Homo sapiens: one gene and its partners. The protein of the gene in region 1 interacts with the protein of each later gene in a biochemical or structural test. Each region holds a gene or a part of one and is shown on either strand. Other genes may lie near its edges.

The links.
Region 2: the proteins of TAF1 (region 1) and GTF2E1 form a complex in vitro, tested with the Homo sapiens proteins (one study listed by BioGRID).
Region 3: the proteins of TAF1 (region 1) and LHX3 form a complex in vitro, tested with the Homo sapiens proteins (one study listed by BioGRID).
Region 4: the proteins of TAF1 (region 1) and PAX3 form a complex in vitro, tested with the Homo sapiens proteins (one study listed by BioGRID).
Region 5: the proteins of TAF1 (region 1) and TAF4B form a complex in vitro, tested with the Homo sapiens proteins (one study listed by BioGRID).

Annotation. Positions count from the first base shown.
Region 1 is NC_000023.11:71,383,010-71,387,720, reverse strand, and holds part of TAF1 (transcription initiation factor TFIID subunit 1), read right to left. Parts: coding exon 4,557-4,711; intron 3,760-4,556; coding exon 3,586-3,759; intron 2,777-3,585; coding exon 2,672-2,776; intron 461-2,671; coding exon 260-460; intron 1-259. UniProt on the Homo sapiens protein: The TFIID basal transcription factor complex plays a major role in the initiation of RNA polymerase II (Pol II)-dependent transcription.
Region 2 is NC_000003.12:120,748,360-120,753,070, reverse strand, and holds part of GTF2E1 (general transcription factor IIE subunit 1), read right to left. Parts: intron 2,549-4,711; 5' UTR 2,519-2,548; coding exon 2,071-2,518; intron 1-2,070.
Region 3 is NC_000009.12:136,194,938-136,199,338, forward strand, and holds the end of LHX3 (LIM/homeobox protein Lhx3), read right to left. Parts: intron 4,123-4,401; coding exon 3,971-4,122; intron 3,884-3,970; coding exon 3,715-3,883; intron 2,807-3,714; coding exon 2,388-2,806; 3' UTR 1,313-2,387; downstream 1-1,312. UniProt on the Homo sapiens protein: Transcription factor.
Region 4 is NC_000002.12:222,225,656-222,230,366, forward strand, and holds part of PAX3 (paired box protein Pax-3), read right to left. Parts: intron 1-4,711. UniProt on the Homo sapiens protein: Transcription factor that may regulate cell proliferation, migration and apoptosis. Involved in neural development and myogenesis. Transcriptional activator of MITF, acting synergistically with SOX10.
Region 5 is NC_000018.10:26,229,078-26,233,788, reverse strand, and holds part of TAF4B (transcription initiation factor TFIID subunit 4B), read right to left. Parts: intron 1-4,711. UniProt on the Homo sapiens protein: Cell type-specific subunit of the general transcription factor TFIID that may function as a gene-selective coactivator in certain cells.

The DNA of each region.
Region 1 (4,711 bases):
CTCAGGTGATCCGCCCACCTCGGCCTTCCAAAGTGCTGGGATCACAGGCGTGAGCCACCACGCCCAGCTAATTTTTGTATTTTTAGTAGAGACAGGGTTTCACCATGATGGTCAGGCTGGTCTCGAACTCCTGACCTCAAGTGATCCATTCACCGCGGCCTCCCAAAGTGCTGGGATTACAGCCATGAGCCGCCATGCCCGGCCCCAACATACCCTTTCTGTATACAACCCAATCCCCTCCCTATCCTCCCATTCTTACCTGTAGAAAGTCTCGAATATGCGTATTGGCCCTTTTGGAGTTAGGCCCAGGAACTTCAAACAAGGGACACTGCTGGCCAACCACAAAAATATCCACTAATTCCCGAATATAGTAACCCTGTCTTGTCCGAATGATCAAGAAATCAGTTTCTGGCATCTTATGAAGATAAATTGGAGCACGAAAAAGGTTGTTCTCAAATGCCTAACAAAAGTAAAAACACAAAAATTATATACAGAGTAGCCCTAGGAAATTCAGTCAACTGCTGAGAAAGAAATACCAAGCTTATTGCTCTCCATCTTAATTACGCCATCTAAGGTCTATCCAGTAATACAAATAAATTAAAATATAGATTATCAAATGTGACTAAACAATTTTTCATCCACTATCTTTCAGAGTCAGTAGGGGAGAAAATACAGGATGTGAATTCAGATGATGCTAGCTCTGCCATTACCTCTATGATTTAACATGTCTATTTAAGCTATTTAACATGTCTAAGTTTAGTTTTCCTCATCTACAAAACAGAGATACTTAAAAATGCCTATACCTCACAGGACTGCTATGAAGATTACATATGAAAATCACTTCATAATGTACCAAGTACTATACTACTACCCTAGACCCCAGTGTAGCCCAACACACAACGTGTGAGAGCAACATTTGTTGAATAAATTATTAAACTAATTAAAAAACAAAACAACGCCGGGCACAGTGACTCATGCCTGTAATCTCAGCACTTTGGGAAGCCGAGGCAGGTAGATCACTTTACCTCAGGAGTTCAAGACCAGCCTCGGCAACATGACAAAACCCCATCTCTACAGAAAATACAATAATTAGCTGGATGTGGTGGCGTGCGCCTATTGTCCCATCTACTTGGGAGGCTGAGGTAGGAGGATGGCTTGAGCCCAGGAGGCAGAAGTTGCAGTGAGCCAAGATCGTGCCACTGCACTCCAGCCTGGGTCACAGAGCCAGACCCTATCTCCAAACAAATAAATCATAAAACAACCAATGAGGTAGAAAGAGTGCTAGACAGAATAGGCTGGGAAAAAACAAAAGGAAAACACAAGACAGTAGGACAGAGGACAGCTGAACAGAAACATTTGAGCCAGTTTAAGTAGAGGCAAGATAGGGATAAACTGTCACAAGAAGCCTGAGTCTAAGGAAAGCCTTCCCCGAAAATCAGAAGAGTAGACAGAAAGAGGGAAGACCATCACTGAGTGTGGAAAGAAAATTCTACATGTGAAATATAGGCAGAAAAAGAATTACAGAAGAATACAGAAAAAGATCTTTTTTTTTTTTTTTTGAGATGGAGTTTCGCTCTTGTTGCCCAGGCTGGAGTGCAATGGCGCGATCTCGGCTCACTGCAACCTCCACCTCCCGGGTTCAAGTGATTCTCCTGCCTCGGCCTCCCGAGTAGCTGGGATTACAGGCATGTGCCACCATGCCCGGCTAATTTTGTATTTTGAGTAGAGGCAGAGTTTCTCCATGTTGGTCAGACTGGTCTCGAACTCCTGACCTCAGGTGATTCGCCCACCTCGGCCTCCCAAAGTGCTGGGATTAACAGGCGTGAGCCACCACGCTCGGCCAGAAAAAGATCTTTAAGAGACTACAAAAGTAGCCACAAAAGAAGAGGCTGAATTGGTAGAAAACCTCAACAGAAAGTTCCAGGGAAAGGAGAAGAACAATACAAAGATGATACTAAACATCCGGTTAGCAATAGACTATGAATGTAAAGGATAAAGAAAAAAACTGAGCTTTGCAGATGCTTTAGGAGAATAAACAACAACAACAGTAGAATAAACTAGGTATAAGAGTAGGACAAATGGTTAAGATTGCCAAGAGAAATGAAATGGAGAAAAAAAACAAGATGGGAGAGTGCTAGAGATTTTCCACATCATTTGTGGACCATCATACTTCCCCCCTTGAATATATAAAAGCTGTTATAAGAGAGCCTCTTTACACCCATTAGAACAAAGGAGGGAAAAAAAAAGCATTTCACTATGGCTGGGGACTGTAGATGGCACAGTTCAGGTGTGGTTCAATATTCACAATAACCACAGCTAATGTGATCAAAATGTTATCAATTTTATACACAAAAATTAAATATTCATAAATTATAGTAAATTTATAGTAAATTCATCCTAGGTTGACTTCCTTATGCTTCCCAGATGTTACTGAGCTTACCAGTGTGTATTTTTAAAAACCTATTTTACATTTAGCCTGAGAATAACACAATTCACAGCCAGTTTTAAGAAAAAGATTTCTTTAAAACATTTTTGGATTATACTTATTTTCTTTGTACTTAAAATTAAAGCATCTCAATCAACTAGAATTATAATAGTTCTTTCTGAGCTGACTGGTTCCTCATTTATCAATTTCCTTAGTTAACAGTAAAAACAGGAAAGAATTCCTCACTTGCAGCAATTGGCCAGGATGGAGAGAACCCAGGAAAGGAGATGTATGGCAGTAAACAGTTTCCCCATATTTACAATCTGGTGCTCCAGGATCTTTTCCAGGTTTCTATAAGGAACACAGAAGACCCAGTTATTTAGAATATATCAATAATCCTACACAATATGACCATAGCACTTTACTAATACAGGTTGAGTATCCCTCATCCAAAATGCTTGTGACCAGAAGTGTTTCGGATTTTGGAATAGTTGCATTATACTTACCAGTTGGGCATCCCAAATCTGGAAATCCAAAATGCTCCAATGAGCATTTGAGTATCATCATAGTGCTCAAAAAGTTTAGGATTGGCCGGGCATGGTGGCTCATACCTGTATCTCAGCACTTTGGAAGGCCAAGACGGGCAGATCACGAGGTTAAGAGATCGAGACCATCCTGGCCAACATGATGAAACCCTGTCTCTACTAAAAATACAAAAATTAGCTGGGTGTGGTGGCACACGCCTGTAGTCCAGCTACTCAGGAGGCTGAGGCAGAAGAATTGCCCAAACCCAGGAGGTGGAGGTTGCAGTGAGTGGAGATCATGCCACTGCACTCCAGCCTGGCAAAAGAGCAAGATTCAGTCTCAAAAAAAAAAAAAAAGTTTTGGATTTTGATTTCGAATTTTGAGATTTGAGATGCTCAACATGTTATAACTACAAAAAAAGGTACCACTCCTTTCTCCCAAGAAATTTATGGTATATGTTCACAGATTACCAGTAGATCTCTAACTACAGCTACGTTAATAATAAAAAATTTGTATGTAAGTTTGCAGTTTGTCTCACTACAGCTATGTTAATAACAAAAAGTTTGTACATAAAAGTTTATGGAAGCATAAGCAGAATTATGTATGGGAAAAAAATTTTCTGAGCAGAGACTCACCCGTTTATAATAGTTCTTTATCTTGGTTGCCATGCCAACCTGCATCATTAAGGGTCCATTTTCCTCACTATATTCTGCAAGAATAAGATCACCATCTTTGCCTGTGAGGTCCTGAGGTGTGCGCATAAAAAACATCTCTCCACCACCTGAAGCTTGCCTCTCTTGTTCTCTCATCTGTCCAGAACAAAGAAAATACCATCTAGCTCCTGACAGGACACTACTACACACAATGACGTTGTTCAATCTGAGACAAACACACCAAAAACATTTTACCTATTTTCCAATTTCATAATCAAAATTTTCAAACATACTGTAAAGTTCAAAGAATAGTACAGTCGGCCCTCCATATCCATGTATGGGTTCTGCATCCGTGATTTCAACCAACCATAGATAGAAAATATTCAGAAAATACAAGTGCATCTGTGCTGAACAGGTACAGACTTTTCTTGTCATTATTCCCTAACCAATAACAGTGTTAACAACTATTCACATAGCATTTACATTGGAGTAGGTATTATAAGTAATCTAGAGGTGATTTAAACTATAGGAGAGGATGTGCATAGGTTATGTGCAAATATTATGCTATTTTATCAGAAACTGGAACATCTAAAGATTTTGGTATCCAGAGAAGGTCCTAGAACCAATCTCCCAGAGATAACGAAGGACGACTGTACTATGAACACTTATTATCCCACGTCGCTGTTTATATTTCGCCATTTTTTTAAACTTTTATCTTTCTATAGACTTTGCTGGACAGTTTTTGAAAGATGCAGTCATTCTGACACCTCACCTTTAAATATTTTCACATGCATCACCTAACAATAAAGACATTCTCCTAAATAACCAAAATAACATTCTATCACATCTGAGAAAATAACCAATTCCCTAATACAATCTAATACCTGGTACATTCCCTTAATTTATACCCCAATATCCTTTATAGCTGTTTTCTAACCAGAATTCAATTATACCTTGGCCTTTTTTTTGATGTGCTTTAGCAAAGGTTGGACTGAGTGGGGACCTGGCTGAGAAAGTGCACCAAATGAGTACTTTTTCAGAGGTGGGCGATGGAACTGCCGGAGTTTGATGGGCCCCATGTGGGTGGGAAAGAAGGGCTGCCGTAATT
Region 2 (4,711 bases), on another chromosome or scaffold:
CTAATCAGCACATTTTCTCCTTAAAGGAGCATCTAAATGAAAAGCCACGTTACAATAAAAAGGCAAGTATGTTCTCAGAATGAGGGTCCCTAATGATTATAAATTTTTAATCATGATACCTCAGGCTTTACTGTAGGACATAACTGCCAATTAAGCATTAGTGTTGGCTGACCAGGGCACCCTCCCCTGAGTGACATTAAGATTAAGTGGCTTATTCTTGCTCTCAGGCACCCCTTCTTTTCATCTTCATGCTGACCATAGCCCTCACATTAAAAATAGTCTTTGTTCAGACTGGCCACAACACAATTGTTTCAGTTTTAGCTTTATTTCATAAAATACTTTCATGCCCTCTACCCTAACTCCTTGATTCAAGTCACCTTGACTGTACTGGATGGAATGTTAGGCCATCTCTTCCACAGGCCATCTATTGAGTCAACTAGTTTCATTCAGAATCCAGGTGAAATTCAAGAGTATCATGATCAGTCTCCCAAATACTGATATATAAGTAGTGGAATCATCTCCTTTTAGAAAGTTTAATTAAATTAATATGACTCAAATGACAAATAAATGTAGTAGAAGCATGTTATTTTAGATTACTCTAAGGGACTGGATAACACCTTCTACTGTGGTCAAGAGTGATGAAGCCTCCACTGTTAAAACCAACATCTGTAGAGAATTACAAAACCAAGAACCCAGAGCTCCTGTAAGAAATCTGTTAGAGTGAATGGCAAGAATCATGAGACTTTTCTAGTCTATTTTGAAGAGCTCCAGATATATTCTACAACCTTCCTCTATAGAACACTCAAGCAATTCTCATACCGAGGATGGTTAAGACTTTCTTATAATCAAGATCTCTCCTTGTGGAGCCCTTTCAAGGTAAAAAGCTCGGCTCAGACAAATTAAATGTTTAATACAATTGTGAATTCCTTAAATCAGTTTTCATCCAAAATCATTGCCTCACAGTAAATAAGAAAAAAAGGTCACAGATTGCTTCTGGCTCTTTTTGTCAATAATCTTAATTTATATTGGGGTTATTTCCCACTTAAAAATTTTTTTTAATTATTTAAAATGTACCATATATAACATAAAAATTAGAAAATAAAACATACACAGAAATCTGTAATTTTGCACAACCAAATATTTCATGGGTCAAAGTTTAAACTTTCAGACGAAGTTTTTAAAAAAGCAGATCTATGAACTAAAAAGTAGCCTATACTCCTGAATTCAACCATAACAAAGGGACTTAATCTAATTTAATAGCACTGAGTCCTTCTATAGATTTTTACCTGTAGAAAATAAGACAAAATTGATCGAGTATTTAGCAAAACTAGTCTCTTTTTTATTGTGTAAACAGATAACAAGATAAAATAACTATATAACTCAGAACTTTAAAGTTTCTCATGTTTATGCTAGACATATTGTATTTTCAGATAATGCATGCTTTCTAAATTGTGTTATGAAAAATCCTTAAAACTATTCAATCAAATCAGGCCAATTATATATCTTGTTGACAATTTTCTTCCAACAATAATGTGTATCTAAAGGACACTAAATGTCTTATCTTGGAAAGAATTCCCCTCTTATTTCATCTAGCTAACTCTTACTATCTTTTAGGTCTCAAATGTTAACTTCTTCCAGAGGCCTTCCCCAAATCCAGATTATATGCCCTAGTTATATACTCCTGATACCACTTTCTACTTCCACTAACAAAGCATTTAAATACACTGTATTGCAACTGTCTAGAGGTCAAAAATAAAATTAGAACAGCCTCAAAGTGGTAGAGAAATCAACCCTTCAGATTAGGCTGCAGTTGTAAACAAGGTGGGGTGGGCAGAGGCAGGAGGGCCATAAGTGAGAAACTCCCTTGTAAAGGAGAAACGCTTTGCAAAGGCTTCTCAAAGTAGTGCGACAGCCAAACAGGACAGTAAGACTGACTGTATGCTGTGATTTACACTGATCCATTCACTTTTATAATAATATATATGATGGTTTAAAAATTAGATGAATCAATTTAAGAAAAAAGGTAATACACACTTTATTTTAAAGATTCACAAACTGGATAAACCTCACCTGTCATAGGATCAAAGAGCTGATTAGCTTCTAAGTCTGTGAAAGTACTACTACAGACAGGACATTTGAAGGAAGCCCGGTTGGTCGAATCTCTCTCATCGGTCTCAATTCTTCTTCTCATGTGGTCCAGTTTATATTTTACCACATTAACAAGAGTACGATAATTGATGAAGTAGTAGTTATGGCGAGTGGTTTTCCCGTCTGCAGCAGTCTCTACCCTCATTCTGCATTTGATAAACTTGTCTCCCTTTAAATTATTCAAAACTGATCGAAGTTGCTTCCGATCAAACTTGAGCAGCTCCAGCATATCCTCCTCTTTCACACAGGAGTTCCTGATCAAGATGTCCAAGGCCAAGGCATGCTCAATGCCATAAAATCCCCGGATCACATACTTGGCTAACCGCTTCAATGCTGCTGGAACTTCAGTGAGGACATCTGGGTCTGCCATCTTTAGCAACGAACTCCAACTTTAAATATACTGAATTCAAAAAAAAACAGAAAATTAGCCAGGTATAAGAACATGGTAATCATATCCACTATCCTTGCAGTGCCAGAAAAGTACCCAAAGTGTTTAAAAAGATTTCTAATACCTAAGCATTTAACAGAGCAGAACAAGATTTTCCTCTAGAATGCACAAAAGATTACACCCAAAAAGCTTTACATATTTCTTAAATGGCTACTTTTATGATCTATAGTGTGTTTGATTAAAAAGTAACTTTTTATTTATAAAACAATATATTACGTCAAGTCTACTTTACTTCAGAAGAGAAACACAAAAAAAGCTACATGAAATGCTCACTATTCTTTGGGAATGCTGGAAACCCTGAGAAAACTAGCAGTTCGCATTTCCTAAAAGTGTCTTTGTTTCCTTTCTTGAGTAAAATTTTTCTACCAAGATTCTAGGATGTTTTACATAGTCATGCTTTCACAATAAAATCACAACAAACCAATAAACACATGAGTAATCACCACCTGGGGTGTTTGACAAAATCATTAACTGTTGTAAAACTGAAAGAAAGTAATACTTAGATCCAGACAGTTTTACCAACCTTGAAAAATTGAATCTGATAATCAAGGAAAGACCATCCAGTCCTTAAAAAGGTAGAAAATGAGGGAGGGAGAGCAGCCCAAAATATTCTTAAATACTGGATCCCTTGACAAAGCAGAAACTAAGTGTATCTCATTTCCGTACCATGACCCAGAAAGCTGTCTTCTCAAAGCCCACATTGGCATATAGTTTACTTTAAAAACCTGGGCTTCGGGCAGAGACACAACCAAAAAGGAGAATTTTAGACCAATATCCTTGATGAACATTGATGCAAAAATCCTCAATAAAATACTGGCAAACCGAATCCAGCAGCACATCAAAAAGCTTATTATCCACCATGATCAAGTGGGCTTCATCCCTGGGATGCAAGGCTGGTTCAATATACGCAAATCAATAAATGTAATCCAGCATATAAACAGAACCAAAGACAAAAACCACATGATTATCTCAATAGATGCAGAAAAGGCCTTTGACAAAATTCAACAACTCTTCATGCTAAAAACTCTCAATAAGTTAGGTATTGATGGGACGTATCTCAAAATAATAAGAGCTATCTATGACAAACCCACAGCCAATATCATACTGAATGGGCAAAACCTGGAAGCATTCCCTTTGAAAACTGGCACAAGACAGGGATGCCCTCTCTTACCACTCCTATTCAACATAGTGTTGGAAGTTCTGGCCAGGGCAATCAGGCAGGAGAAGGAAATAAAGGGTATTCAATTAGGAAAAGAGGAAGTCAAATTGTCTCTGTTTGCAGATGACATGATTGTATATCTAGAAAACCCCATTGTCTCAGCCCAAAATCTCCTTAAACTGATAAGCAACTTCAGCAAAAAGTCTCAGGACACAAAATCAATGTACAAAAATCACAAGCATTCTTATACACCAATAACAGACAAAAAGAGAGCCAAATCATGAGTGAACTCCCATTCACAATTGCTTCAAAGAGAATAAAATACCTAGGAATCCAACTTACAAGGGATGTGAAGGACCTCTTCAAGGACAACTACAAACCACTGCTCAATGAACTTAAAGAGGATACAAACAAATGGAAGAACATTCCATGCTCATGGGTAGGAAGAATCAATATCGTGAAAATGGCCATACTGCCCAAGGTAATTTATAGATTCAATGCCATCCCCATGAAGCTACCAATGACTTTCTTCACAGAATTGGAAAAAACTACTTTAAAGTTCATATGGAACCAAAAAAGAGCCCACACTGCCAAGTCAATCCTAAGCCAAAAGGACAAAGCTGGAGGCATCACGCTACCTGACTTCAAACTATACTACAAGGCTACAGTAACCAAAACAGCATGGTACTGGTACCAAAACAGAGATATAGACCAATGGAACACAACAGAGCCCTCAGAAATAACGCTGCATATCTACAACTATCTGATCTTTGACAAACCTGAGAAAAACAAGCAATGGGGAAAGGATTCCCTATTTAATAAATGGTGCTGGGAAAACTGGCTAGCCACATGGAGAAAGCTGAAACTGGATCCCTTCCTTACACCTTTTACAAAAATTAATTCAAGACGGGTTAAAGACTTAAATGTTAGACCTAAAACCATAAAAACCCTAGAAG
Region 3 (4,401 bases), on another chromosome or scaffold:
ACACACATCCCGAAACGATGAAAAGGACGTCCCTTAAAAGACAACTGTTCCCTTGGCCAGGTGCGGTGGCTCACACCTGTAATCCCAGCACTTTTGGAGGCCAAGGCGGGTGGATCACCTGAGGTCAGGAGTTCGAGGCTAGCCTGGCCAACATGGTGAAACCTTGTCTCTACTAAAAATACAAAACTGGGAATGGTGCTGCGCGCCTGTAATCCCAGCTACTTGGGAGGCTGAGGCAAGAGAATCGCTTGAACCCAGGAGGCGGAGGTTGTGGTGAGCGGAGATCACGCCATTGCACTCCAGCCTGGGCAACAAGAGCAAAACTCCATTTAAAAAAAAACCACACAACTGGTCCCAACCAGTTCCCCCCAAAAGATGGCTGGTCCTGGAGAGACTTGGAAGTCTGCAGCTCAGAGCAGCTTCCCTTGGCCACATTCTGGAGGGGCCTCCGCACCCTTACTGGGGGAACTGAGGCCAGTGCAAAGGTCCCCATGAAAGGCATGGGGACTCCTCCACCTTCCCTCCCCGTCCACTGAGAAATAGGGAGCCCAGGCTCCAAGGGGCCTCCTCCCTCCAGCCCCCACTCTGCTCCAGGGAGACCCCCTCAGAGGAAGAGACCCTCAGGGAGGAGGCCCAGCCCTCCTTCCTGCAGGAGGGAAGGCCGAGGTGGAAGGGCCAACCCTGCCTGCTTCTACCACTGCCCCTATAGGAGCACTTACCTGGGGGTGGGGGTGGGGCGCATACAACTTCTTTCTGCCCTCTGAGGGGACTGTCATCACTGTCTTCTCTTTACGGCGGCGGCGGGGTTGGGGGGGTTGGGGGGTGGGGACGGGGAAGCAGGGCTCAGAGGGTTCCAGCCCCCAGCCCAGGGTCACACAGCAAGTTAGAAGAGCCAGGATTGGAATCCAAGCTGGAGAGACTTCCATGACCATGAGCCTGGTCACCCTACCAGCCTATGTCCTGGGGTTGGTGCCAGCTGCAAGCTGTGAATGGCACACACGGCCCACCTCCCACCCCCATCATGCTCTCTGGACATCCCAACCCCTGCCTCTCCCAGGGACAGGGTGTGGAGACCGCAACCCCTCCCCTCCATCAGGAAGGGATGGGCTGTTCCCCCCACCTCCTTCCAGTGCTCATGAGCATGGCCAAGATCCAGGGATAAAGAGAGCCCAAATTCATACTAGGTGCCAGCCCAAGCAACGAACTAGGGGGACTCAGGGCCCCTCCAGGGCTGCCTCTCAACATTCACAGAATGTTCCCCACACCCAACACTCCCCAACCCCCGCAGCCTCAAAAAAACGCGGGCCTTCCATTGACTGTAACTGACAAATTTATTGAAGTCTTGGAAAGAGCTGATCACCCGAGAATAAATAAAAGACACAGAACATTCACAGAACCAATAGGTAGCTCGAGATTCAGGTTTGCGGGAGTGACTTTGACTTACACACAGGCCAGCCTTTGTGTCTGGGGCACGCACAGCTGCGGGCATCTCCCAGAAACTTCTTCCCAAAGGATCTGATGGAGGAGGCAGGGCAGGCTCAGAGGAGCCCCACCCTTCTCCAGCGGGGAGACTTCCCAATCTGGGGCTGGCAGAGCCGGCTCCGGCAGGGAGGGCAGGCTGTTTGGCAACAGACATCTGTGGGTGCAGCCTGGACACCAAGGGCCTGGGGTGGGGTGAGGAGGAGACCCTGAGGGGCTTAGAGAATTGAGCTTGGAGAGAAGGGGCGCCAGGCATTTTTGCCTCCTCCACAGGATACTCGAGAACAGAATGATCTAGAGACCTGGGGATTGGGGAAAGCTTCTCCCGGGGAAGGTGGGGCTGGAGGCAGAGAGGCCCCCTGTGGTCTGGGGAGAGGAGGGGGCCTCTCCCGGAGGACACAGGTGTGTCCCCGCCTCTGCAGCCTCTTGCCTCGACAGGCAAGGCCAATCTCCGACCTAAAGAGGGAGCCTCGGGGTGACGGCTCCAAGACACATGGAGCCTGGGAAGTGAAAGCACAATTATGATGATTTCTCAGTTTTAGAGATGAAAGCGTTTTTCCAGCCCTCGGGCTATGCTGGGCTGGGCTGGGCCTCAGCAAGGTGACATTTCATGTCTAGAAATAGCAGCAAGTGCTCAGTTAATTGGTCAATAAAGGGGAGAAATTTGCTTACAAAAAAGGCTGGCTTGCTGGGAGGCCACCTGGCGGGCCAGCCCTGTGTCAGAGGAGGGGCCAGGTGGGTCCCTCAGCCCCCAGAGAGGGAGCTGTGCGGTCGGCAGTGGGAGGCTCCGAAGGCACCAGCCCTCCCTTGACGCCCTGGCCCCACTTCCTCGGAAACCCCAGCAGCCCCGAGCCGCCCACCCAGGGGCAGCTCCCTCGTGTGAGGTGCAGGGTGGAGCCGGGCCTGGGTCAGAACTGAGCGTGGTCTACCTCATCCAGCCAGGAGGCGGGGCTGGCAGGGAAGTCGGGGTAACCCCCGCTGCTCCCCGTGGATAGGTCAGAACTGGGTCCGTTCCCTGCCAGCACCCTCATGGGTGGGGGCCCGCCGGGGGCTCCCGAGGGCACAAGGCCCAAGCTGGTGTCTGGGTACACCAGGCTGGAGAGGAGGGGCTGGGGGCCAGGGAGGCTCTGCGGGGCGGCGGGGGATGGGGGGACACCGTAGGGGCTGCCGGGACGCAGCTCTCGGTACTGCTCTGGGCCTGCCAGGCCTCCATGCTCCAGGGAGAAGTTGCCCAGGGCTCCCGAGGGCCGGCCCAAGGCCTGGGTGGGTTCCCCCAAGCTCCCGTAGAGGCCATTGGCCGGGCCCATTTCCGCCAAGGAAGGCTCATCTGCAACAGAAGCAGAGGCTCAGTCAGCGCCTGCCCTCCACCTGCGGCCCCTCAGAGTCCCATCCTGCAGGCGGAGGCACCCCTGGGTCGGAGAAAGAGTGGCTGCCCCACACCACATGACAGGTCATAACAGGCCCCTTCTACTGTTGGAGCATGGCTGCCCCTGCCCCTCCACTGCCCTCACCCCTGAGTCAGCCCAGGTGTCTCAGGCCTGGTGGGATCAGAGTCAGGAACAGCCCAGCCAGGGCCCAGGCTTTCAGGACCAGCCCCACAGCAGCCTAGGAAGGGGGCACAGATACCACCACCCACATTTTGCAGACAAGGATATTTAGTTCCAGAGTGGCTGAGTGAGTAGCCCGGGTCACGAGGCAGCCCAAAAGAGAGTGTCTTGTCCACATTCTGAGGATGGGCATCAACAGATGGGGACGCAGCATCCCCGGTGCCCGGAGAATGAAATAAATAATCCAGGCCCCACAGAAGGGTATGGAACCTTCTCTCCCTGACCCCAGGTAGCCCCCTCCCCCAACTCCAAGCAGCTGGGACTTCGACTCAGTCTTTCCCGAAATGCACTGCCCATTCTCCTAAAAATCACTGCAAGGGCTAGGAGCCAGAGAGACGGCCTGGACACGCCCACCCCCCCATGAGAAAGCCCGTAGGCGCCCAGCTTGGGGACAGGTCGGGCCACAGGGATTGTGTCCCCACCAGGGGAAAAGCAGTGGTCCGGAGTGGCCACCCAGGGCGGGGAGGGTGCTGGGGGAGCAGGTTCTGTAAGTGAAATGCTTTTGAAAGTAGAACTTAAGGAGTCCACTAACTCCATGGGAAATTCAGATCCGCGGGCTCCCTGGGACCCCTGCGACCCCGCCGACGCGCGCTCGTCCCCCCCCGAGCTCCGCGATCCCTCCGCCTACCGGGGAAGGAGACCTCAGCGTCGCTGTCCTGCCCCTCCTGAACGCTGTCCTTGTCCGACTTGGAGCCGCCGCGGGAGCGCTTCATGTTGCGGAAATACTGCCCCCAGCGCTGCCGGCCGGCGTCCTTCTTCAGCCTCTTCTCCTTGGCCCGGCGGTTCTGGAACCAAACCTGGGGGCGGGGCGGGGTGAGCGGCCGCCCGGCTCTGCGGGGGCCCCCAAGGCCGCGGGCGGGAGGGAAGCAGGGGCGAGCGCTGACCTGCACCACGCGCATGTCCAGGCCCGTCTCGGACGAGAGCTGCTCGCGCACGTGGCGCGCCGGCTTGGGCGAGGTGTTGTAAGCGCTCTTCAGCGTCTCCAGCTGCTTGGCGGTGATGGTCGTGCGCGGCCGCTTGGCCGTGGCCTCGGCCTCTGCGCGGCGGGCGAGCGGTGAGGCGCGGCAGCCCCTCCGGCCCCGGCCGGACCCCCAGCCCTCCCACCCCGGCCGGCGCGGGGACGTCGGGGCCTCAGGTGCCCACCCCCATCCCGCCCCACAGGCTTCTCGGAAGGCGCGGGCGCTGGGAGCGATTGGCAAAAACGGGCAGCACCCGGGCTGGGGTGGAGGGGGCGCCGGCGGAGGGCGGGTTCTGCCGCGGGGGCGGGGGCGGCGCCTTCCCTAAAATCGCACCTCCACGGCGCCCCCGCCTTCAG
Region 4 (4,711 bases), on another chromosome or scaffold:
TCTCTGTTTTCCCATGTGCTAAACGGGGAATATAAAAACTACTTCACAAGATTGTTGTGACTATTAAAAATGCAATGCAATCTAAGCTTCTAAAAGAATACCAAGGAGATATTAAATGTTCAGTAAATGCTAGCTATTAAATAGAAAGTCTCACACTGACACTTCTATCTGAGAAAACCAAGAATTGAAGCTCTGTTTTGCTTCCTTCACTCTGTGGTGTCCAGCCAAAGCCTTTTGTGTCTGTGAGTAAACAGGAAAGTGCCCAGAAAACACCTCAAATAATTGAAAGCCGGTTTGACTTGAATGGAGGCTTAGGTCAAATTTGCTTCCAAGTTTCATGGATTAGTGCTAATTGTCCCTTGGTGTCAGCCTAATTTTGCCCATCAATAAATTACTGGTTCACATTTTTGGTGGTGTTCTCAAAGGCAATTCAGCCTACATTATTCAAGACGGATTACTTCAAATGCAATTTGAAAAATGGGGAGAGAACATAATAGTTAATCCTTAGAAAGAGAATTCGCAACAAGATTGTAAAACGTTTGGTTAAATACTAGACTCAGGATGTCGAATGCTGACATGCCAAGTACAGTACTTTCCAAGTAGGGAAATTCAGGGCAAGCTGCTCATTTCCCTGGACCTTCTCCTTCACTCTCACCTCCTTTCTCTTTCTATGAAAGGTTCTCCCAGCCTTCCAATCACTGCTGCTATCCAACTTTGGCCACCATTTGGAGAGCAGGTTGGAAACAGGATGGGCAAGATTGAACAGGAGGAAGGCCATGCTCCCATGCATGTGAAAAGACCATGGACACACACAAAAGCACACTCAACTGCATCTTGATACCTCCCAAAAGCAAACTCCTGCAGAGAACTTCAGGATGAACATATGTTTGCTTCATTACGGAGCTTAGGATATTCTATACCTATCTGAACTTCTGAACTATACAGATCAGTTAGACGGCTTCAAATCATCATGGTGCTTTTTTAGGAATTCCAAATTACTGATGCTATAAGGATTCTGCCATATTCTCATTCCCTTTCTCATTCCCAAGGGTCCTGAGAAATTATGCATTTGGGTCATTCCCAAAATGCATGATTTCTCAGGACCCTTGGGAATCACCATTGTTATTTTTTGGGAATCCTAAATTACTGATGCTATAAGGGTCCTGAGAAATCATGCGTTCTACTAGTTTTTAATTTGGGCATGGGAGAAAGGTATTTGAGCACATAATGAAAGCCAGAGGCCCTTTCTCTAGTTAACAGTTGTATATACACATACACAAGCAAAGGAGCAAAATTTTGTGTACAAATCTCAAATCTCCCAGATCTCCTGAAGTCCACCCATGATTATCCTGGTGGGGCATGAACCCCAGCTGAGATCATGTGATCTAACCAACCCCATATTTTTTTAAATTAAAAAAATTAAAAACCTGAAGTCCAAAAGGATTCCAGCAAGATTAAGTAACTTGCTCAACAAAACACATTTGTCAACTGGGAACGAAACCCATATCATCTGACTCCTAGTTAAATTCTATTTCCCCTAGTAACTTGTTTTTCTGTCTTCCATTGTCTTCGTGGTAAAACAGGATGTTACTTGCCTACTTCATGGGATTCTTAGATGGAATATTTACTAAAACTTTTGCACATCATAAATATTTGGGCCAGACATAGTGGCTTACACCTGTAATCTCAGCACTTTGGGAGGCCAAAAAATAGGAGGATTACTTGATTCCAGGAGTTTGAGACCAGCCTTGGCAACATGGTGAAACCGCATCTCTACAATACAAAAATTAGCTGGGTGTGGTGGCACAAGCCTGTAGTCTCGGCTACCCAGGAGACTGAGGCGGGAGGATCATCTGAGCCCAGGAGGCAGAGGTTGCAGTGAGCAGAGATCGCACCACTGTACTCCAGTGCACTCCAGCTCAGGCAACAGAGTGAGACCCTGTCTCAAAAAATAATTAATTAATTAATATTTGCAAGTAATTCCTCCCCACAAAACTTGAATGTTTGTCATTATTTGCATGATATTAATAACAGCTACCCTCATTACAGATGAATTAGGCAAATCATCTTTTTTAAAAAAAAAAAAAACCTTGTAGTGTTATTATTACTAGGCAAATAGTCGTTAGTATACAACAGTTCTTACATTGTGTACTCAGATTTGGTTATGATAAACTCAACACAGCTACAGCCTAAATGAATTTATATAAAACACTGACAGAGGCTAAAGTTATTATAGCTTTAGTCCCATTTCTATTTAGAAGAGTGTAGAAATATTTTTCCTCAGGAGAAAAAAAATGAAATGTAGACATGATTTGGGGTTTGGGGGGTGTTTCGTGTTTGGTTTTCCCAGGTGCCCCAAATTAAACTAACTCACACTTTCTGGCTATCACTCAAACTGAGTTGACTTGGCTACTGCTTTCCCAGATCCTCTAAAAACTAAAGGATTTTCTTCTGGCATTTTAATCAGTGATTAACTACTCCCTTCTTTTTCCTGCTGGGTTAAGTAAAAGATCCATATGCTGGGTGTTCTAGGGAATTTGTTAGGCTATAGATCACAGCCGTGGTGCCAGCCATGATGTGTCTCAAGGGAACTAAAGAAGCCATAAGGAATGTCAAGAGTCACCGGGTTAAAGCCACATTAAGACAGCTGTTACGTTAATGAAGGCCCTGCTTCGAAGAGGAGGTCACTATATGGAAAAGTATGAACTACTGTTTATTGGTTTGATCCCATGTCCTCTGAAAGTTAATGGGCCATTATTATTATCCTTTGACATTCATTGAGCCAGATGAGAATGCTGGGTGCTGTACAAGCTACATGGGTTTGAAATATATTCTGTCTCCATCCTTAGTTTTGACAAAGGCAGGAATGAAAGAGAACAACACCGAACACTCCTCAGTTTTCCATCACACTCCTTGTCTGATCTATTTACAATAAATGTTTATTTTTCCTTACTCACATTGAGTTCAGAGCTGATACTCGGCCTATTTTAAAAATAGATCTAGTGCCAGTGGCTCACACCTGTAATCTCAACACTTTGAGACGCTGAGGAGGGAGGATCACTTGAGTCCAGGAGCTCAAGACCAACCTGAGCAACATAGCAAGACCCCAGCTCTACAAAAAAATAGAAAAATAATTAGCCAGACATGGTGGCACACATCTGTAGACCCAGCTACTCTGGAAGCTGAGGTGGAAGAATCACTTGAGCTTGGAAGATCGAGGCTACACAGTGAGCCATGATTAAGCCACTGTACTACAGGCTGGGCAACAAAGTGAGACTCTGTCTCAAAAAACAAACAAACAAACAAACAAAAAAGCAGATCTAGTAGGTGGGCTTGGCCAGTTACAGAGGACAGGTACCAAATCCTGGAATATAGTGGCCACTCAAAAGAGGCATGATTGGACCTCACATAACATTTGCAGGTAATTGCAGAACTATAATAAAAGCAAAGTAGATTTGAAACATATTATTTATAACATTGTTATATATAATATACTATTATATGATTTAATTTGTCTGCCCTTTTGATTGTGATACAGATTTTTTCTCTGCACTGTTATATTAATATGCATGTTAATATCATAACATTGATATAGTAATATTAATGTTATGTTAATATAATATTTATATAGTATTATATAATATTACTATATCAATACTGTATTAAAATATTTTTCTATTGAAATATTATGACTTAGTTAATAAAGGTTATTTCTACACTGTGTGGTGGGGAGAAACACTCTGTTTCCCAATGATAATAGGTTTCCCAACTTTAAAACACCAGCTCTGTGAACCTTGGTCTATCTACAACTCTTCCTTTCACTCACCTTCCTCCCCACTTCTAGATTACACAATCGGTTGTCCATTCTACCTCTGAATACCTTCACCACCATCTCTTCCTTGCCATTCCCACTGCCACTACCTATCTCATGCCATAGCCCCCACTCCCTGTCACATCAAATGTGAGCTCACTGGCCTGAAACCCAAGACCTCCATAGGATATCCTCAGCCTACCTACCAAACCCTATTTCTTCCACCACCCTACCACTCCTTACATTCTAATCAAACTAACTATTCTCCCAATATGACTAGAGTGAAAAAGAAAGGTTATCTTACGTGTAGCCCACCACTTCTACCTCTCTGTGCCTCTGCTCATATAATTCCCTATTACTAATATACTCTCCTTATGCACCTGGTCCAGTGAATATCTATCTAGCCCGGAAAGTTCATCTTAAATCTGCCCTCTGGGCCCAGCACAATGGCTCATGCCTATAATCCCAGCACTTTGGGAAGCCAAGGCAAGTGGATCGCTTGCACCTGGGAGTTCAAGAAGAGCCTGGGCAACATGGCAAAATCCCATCTCTTCAAAAAATTATCCAGGCATAGTGGCATGCACCTGTAGCCCCAACTATCTGGGAGGCTGAGGTGGGAGGATCACCTGAGCTCAGGAGGTGTAGGCTTCAGTGAGCTGTGATTGTACCACTGTACTCCAACCTGGGCTACAGAATGAGACCCTGTCTCAAAAAAAAAAAAAATTAAATCTGCCTTCTTCATGTACCTCTCTTCATTCCTTCAAGATCTCATCCCTTGAGTTCATGTCCTTTGCAGGGACATGGATGAACCTGGAAACCATCATTCTCAGTAAACTAACACAGGAACAGAAAACCAAACACTGCATGTTCTCACTCATGAGTGAGAGTTGAACAATGAGA
Region 5 (4,711 bases), on another chromosome or scaffold:
TCAATACTTGTTGGTCTGTGTTCATACCTTTATAAATTGGATAGAAGCCTTCCCCTGCAAGACAGAGAGGGCTGAGGAAGTGGTTTAAGTCCTAATTCATGAAATAATTCACGAGCAATGAAAAGCCCATACACAGCCCTGTAACCATGAAACCGTCTTAACTTCCCAAGCCCCTTTATGCATGCAGCGCAACCTGTTATCAGGCCTGCCCCTGGGGCACCTACTATCCCATCAGCATAATTACACCCTACAACTTCAAGCCCCAACTGATCATAGTAACTTCTGAGTCACCCAAACAGCTCCATTCAGATGGCCTGTCTGCTTCACAGGGCCTCCAAAAATCATCACTTCCTCCCTGCTTAACAAACAGTCCGGGTTTTGTCATGGCAAACATACTCCCTGCATGACCATTCACCTCTGGACCCCCTGCAGCAGCGCCCCCACCGCTAGTGAATGCCTTCTCCTCCCTTCTTTCAATTACTTTCTTGAATGCTTCCTAGTAGATACAAAACGGTTTTTTCTCCAATGGGAAAATAGAACACAGAGAGCCACTCAGTTTGCTCCCAACACCCCTTCCCAGCCGCTCACCAGAGCTACCTTGGCAAGTACTTTAGGAGTATGGGAAAATGAAAACAACAAATTCACACACCTTTTTAACATACACAACCAGTTCTGTCTACCCAGCGAAGCCATATTCTTCTTATGTGGAACTTCAACCTATATCTGCCTCCCCACCAACTAGACAGGCACCTGCACCTTAGTCTTCCTAAGTCCCAACATTGACATTGCCCCAGGAAATCAGACCCTATCAGTGCCCCTCAAAGCTCAAGTCCATCAGCGCAGGGCCATACAACTAATACCACTACTTATAGGGTTAGGAATGGCCACCACTACAGGAACCAGAATAGCCAGTTTATCTACTTCATTATCCTACTACCACACACTCTCAAAGGATTTCTCAGACAGTTTGCAAGAAATAACAAAATCTATCCTTACTCTACAATCCCAAATAGACTGTTTGGCAGCAGTGACTCTCCAAAACCGCTGAGGCCTAGACCTCCTCACTGCTGAGAAAGGAGGACTTTGTACCTTCTTAGGGGAAGAGTGTTGCTTTTATACTAACCAGTCAGGGATAGTACGAGATGCCACCAGGTGTTTATAGGAAAAGGCTTCTGAAATCAGACAATGGCTTTCAAACTCATCCCAACCTCTGGAGTTGGGCGACATGGCTTCTCCCCTTTCTAGGTCCTGTGACAGCCATCTTGCTATTACTCGCCTTCAGGCCCTGTGTTTTTAATCTCCTTGTCAAATTTGTTTCCTTCAGGATCGAGGCCATCAAGCTACAGATGGTCTTACAAATGGCACCCCAAATGAGCTCAACTCACAACTTCTACTGAGGACCCCTGGACCAACCCACTGGCCCTTTGACTGGCCTAGAGAATTCACCTCCAGAGGACACTACAACTGCAGGGCCCCTTCTTCGCCCCTATCCAGCAAGAAGTAACTAGAGCGGTCATCACCCAATTCCCAACAGCAGCTGGGGTGTCCTGTTTAGACGGGGGTGGGGGGAGATTGAGAGGTGAAGCCAGCTGGACTTCCTGGGTTGACTGCAGACTTGGAGAACTTTTCTGTCTTACGAGAGGATTGTAAAATGCACCAATCAGCACTCTGTAAAAACACACCAATCAGTGCTCTGTAGCTAGCAAGAAGATTCTAAAATGCACCAACCAGCACTCTGTAAAATGCACCAATCAGCGCTCTATAAAATGCACCAATCAGCGCTCTGTAAAATGCACCAATCAGCAGGATCCTAAAAGTAGCCAATCACAGGGAGAACTGAAAAAAGTGCACTCGGATAGGAAAGAAACAGAACGTGGGAGGGGCCAATAAGGGGATAAAAGCTGGCCACTCCAGCCAGCAGCAACAACCCGCTCAGGTCCCCTTCCACACTGTGGAAGCTTTGTTCTTTTGCTCTTCACAATAAACCTTGCTACCGCTCACTCTTTGGGTCTGTGCCATCTTTAAGAGCTATAACACTCACCGCCAAGGTCACGGCTTCATTCTTGAAGTCAGCAAGACCACAAACCCACCAGAAGGAACCAACTCTGGACACACTAATACTTAAAAGACACAATAGACGGGGCACAGTGGCTCATGCCTGCAGTCTCAGCACTTTGGGAGGCTGAGATCAGCAGATCACTTGAGGCCAGGAGTTCAAAGATCAGCCTGGCCAACTTAGCAAAACCCTGTCTTTACTAAAAAGAAAAAAATTAGCCTGGTGTGGTGGCACACACCTGTAATCTCAGCTACTTGGAGGCTGAGACATGAGAATTGCTTGAACCCAGGAGGCAGAGGTTGCAGTGAGCTGAGATCATGCCACTGTACTCCAACCTGGGCAACAGAGTGAGACTCTGTCTCCAAAAAAAAAAAAAAAAAAAAAAAACCCCAAGCAGCTGGGTGGCTCACATCTGTAATCCCAGCATTTTGGGAGGCCAAGGTGGGCGGATCACCTGAGGCTGGGAGTTCAAGACCAGCCTGACCAACATGGAGAAACCTCATCTCTACTAAAAATACAACAAAAATTAGCCAAGGGTGGTGGCGCATGCCTGTAATCCCAGGTACTCAGGAGGCTGAGACAGGACAATCGCTTGAACCCGGGAGGCAAAGGTTGTGGTGAGCCAAGATTGCACCATTGCACTCCAGCCTGGGCAACAAGGGCAAAATCCATCAAAAAAAAAAAAAAAAAAAAAAAAAGCAAAACAACACACCACAAGTTTGTCAATTACTTTGAAGAGGAAATTACATTTTAGTGATTTTCACATGAACATATACTGCTTTTGTAAGTAGAATAAGCAAAGAAATCAAAACTCAACACACTGATATGTGTGATGACCCTCAGAATCCCTTAGGGGCTGCAGCCCTATTGCCCCCTACTCTCTCCATATATGCCTACATTCAAATACTTGAGCGCCTTCGTGCACAACTCACTAGGCCCTGAGGATAGATAATAGCGACATAGAGTCCCTGATTACAGAAGCAGGGACTTGTAATCAAAAAGGACCTTGTAATCAAAAAGAAAACAAAGTGTGGGAGTACTATGAGAGTGAAAGCACGGCATCCAAATGGAAACACGTAACAGGAGAACCTAACCTCACCTTGAGGAAGATCCGCAGGAGAGGAGCACCAGCACTTTCTCCTGTGGGCTGACTACCGACAGAGTAATGCCATGGCCACTATCACTTTACGCCAACTCTACAGTCTGAAAATCAAACAGTGGATGGTGTATGGTGAACACTGAAAAGAATACCCCTCATTTCACAAAGCCCAGCAGCACTGTGACAACTGTGGAAGTGATGATCATGTACACTGTATCCCTTTGATAAAGCCAGAGTGGAAACAAAGAACTTATCCAAGGACTGGATCAAGAAGTTGGGAAAGGAGATGCAAATTCTATGCCCTGTCTCAGCATGAAAACAGGCTGATGAAAAGGGACCTCACTGCTTCATAAGTAACTTTCACACTTTTGTACAGTATGACTGTCATGCAGAATTTATCCCAGTTTATGACCTAAAAGAAGGAATCAAGTCCTTGCTTATCATTCTCAAACAGGTGATAGACAAGATGAAGAATATCAAGAAGAACCACAGTTCAGCCTAAAACCCCACATGTTCACAAAAGACTGAAGAAATTACTGAAAACCTTTTATTAATATTTCCTCAAATATTCTCTTGTGCATTCTTTTTATTTCAAGCTCCTGCTCCCTAGAAAAACCTGTGGTGCATATATATGTATATGTGTGTGTGTGTGTGTATATATATATATATTTTTTTTTTAAACCAGTTCTGTTCATAGATGAAACTCTGAAGTAAAGAGAATCAAATACTTAAAGTATTCATTATCTTGAAAAATGAAGAACTGACATATATAAGCACCCTTGTGTAATCAAGTGCTAATTCTTGGTATGCAAAGGAAATAGTACAAGATTCAGGCCAGCGCAGTGGCTAACGCCTGTAATCCCAGCACTCTGAGAGACCGAAGCAGGCTGATCACTTGAGGTCAGGAGTTCGAGACCAGCCTGGCCAACATGGTGAAACCCCATCTCTACTAAAAATACAAAATTTAGCCGAGCATGGTGGCGTGTGCCTGTAATCCCAGCTACTCGGGAGGCTGAGACGGGAGAATTGCTTGAACCCGGGAGGCGGAGGTTGCAGTGAGCCGAGATTATGCCACTGCACCCCAGCCTGGGCAACAGAGTGACACTCCGTCTCAGAGAAAGAAAAAAAAAAAAAAAAAAGAAAGAAAGAAAGATATAAAAGAAATAGTATAAGATTCATAACCTTTTTAAAAAGTTACTTTAATCAGTGTTTCCATTTTATTCTTCAACTATTGGTTATCTTATTCTATCCAATAAGAGCACAAATGTAGTTAGTACACCCTTCTGCCACACGTCAGCAGAAAATTCCCAAAAGCAAATCCCCACTTCCTCTATAACGACCAATTCCTAAAGACAACTTATCTTCTTTCTCTCTTTTGTATGGGTTTCTCAGAGGTAAATAGCATGCAATGTTTTAATACAGTGCTAGGAACATAATTAGACTATGGTCCTAGTATGCTATTATTTTAACTCTGCCAAGTTTCAGTTTTGGTTCCTTGGTATATAAAATAAAAGACTGGAATCTAAAGTTCTCTGAATCACCTTTCAGTACTGACA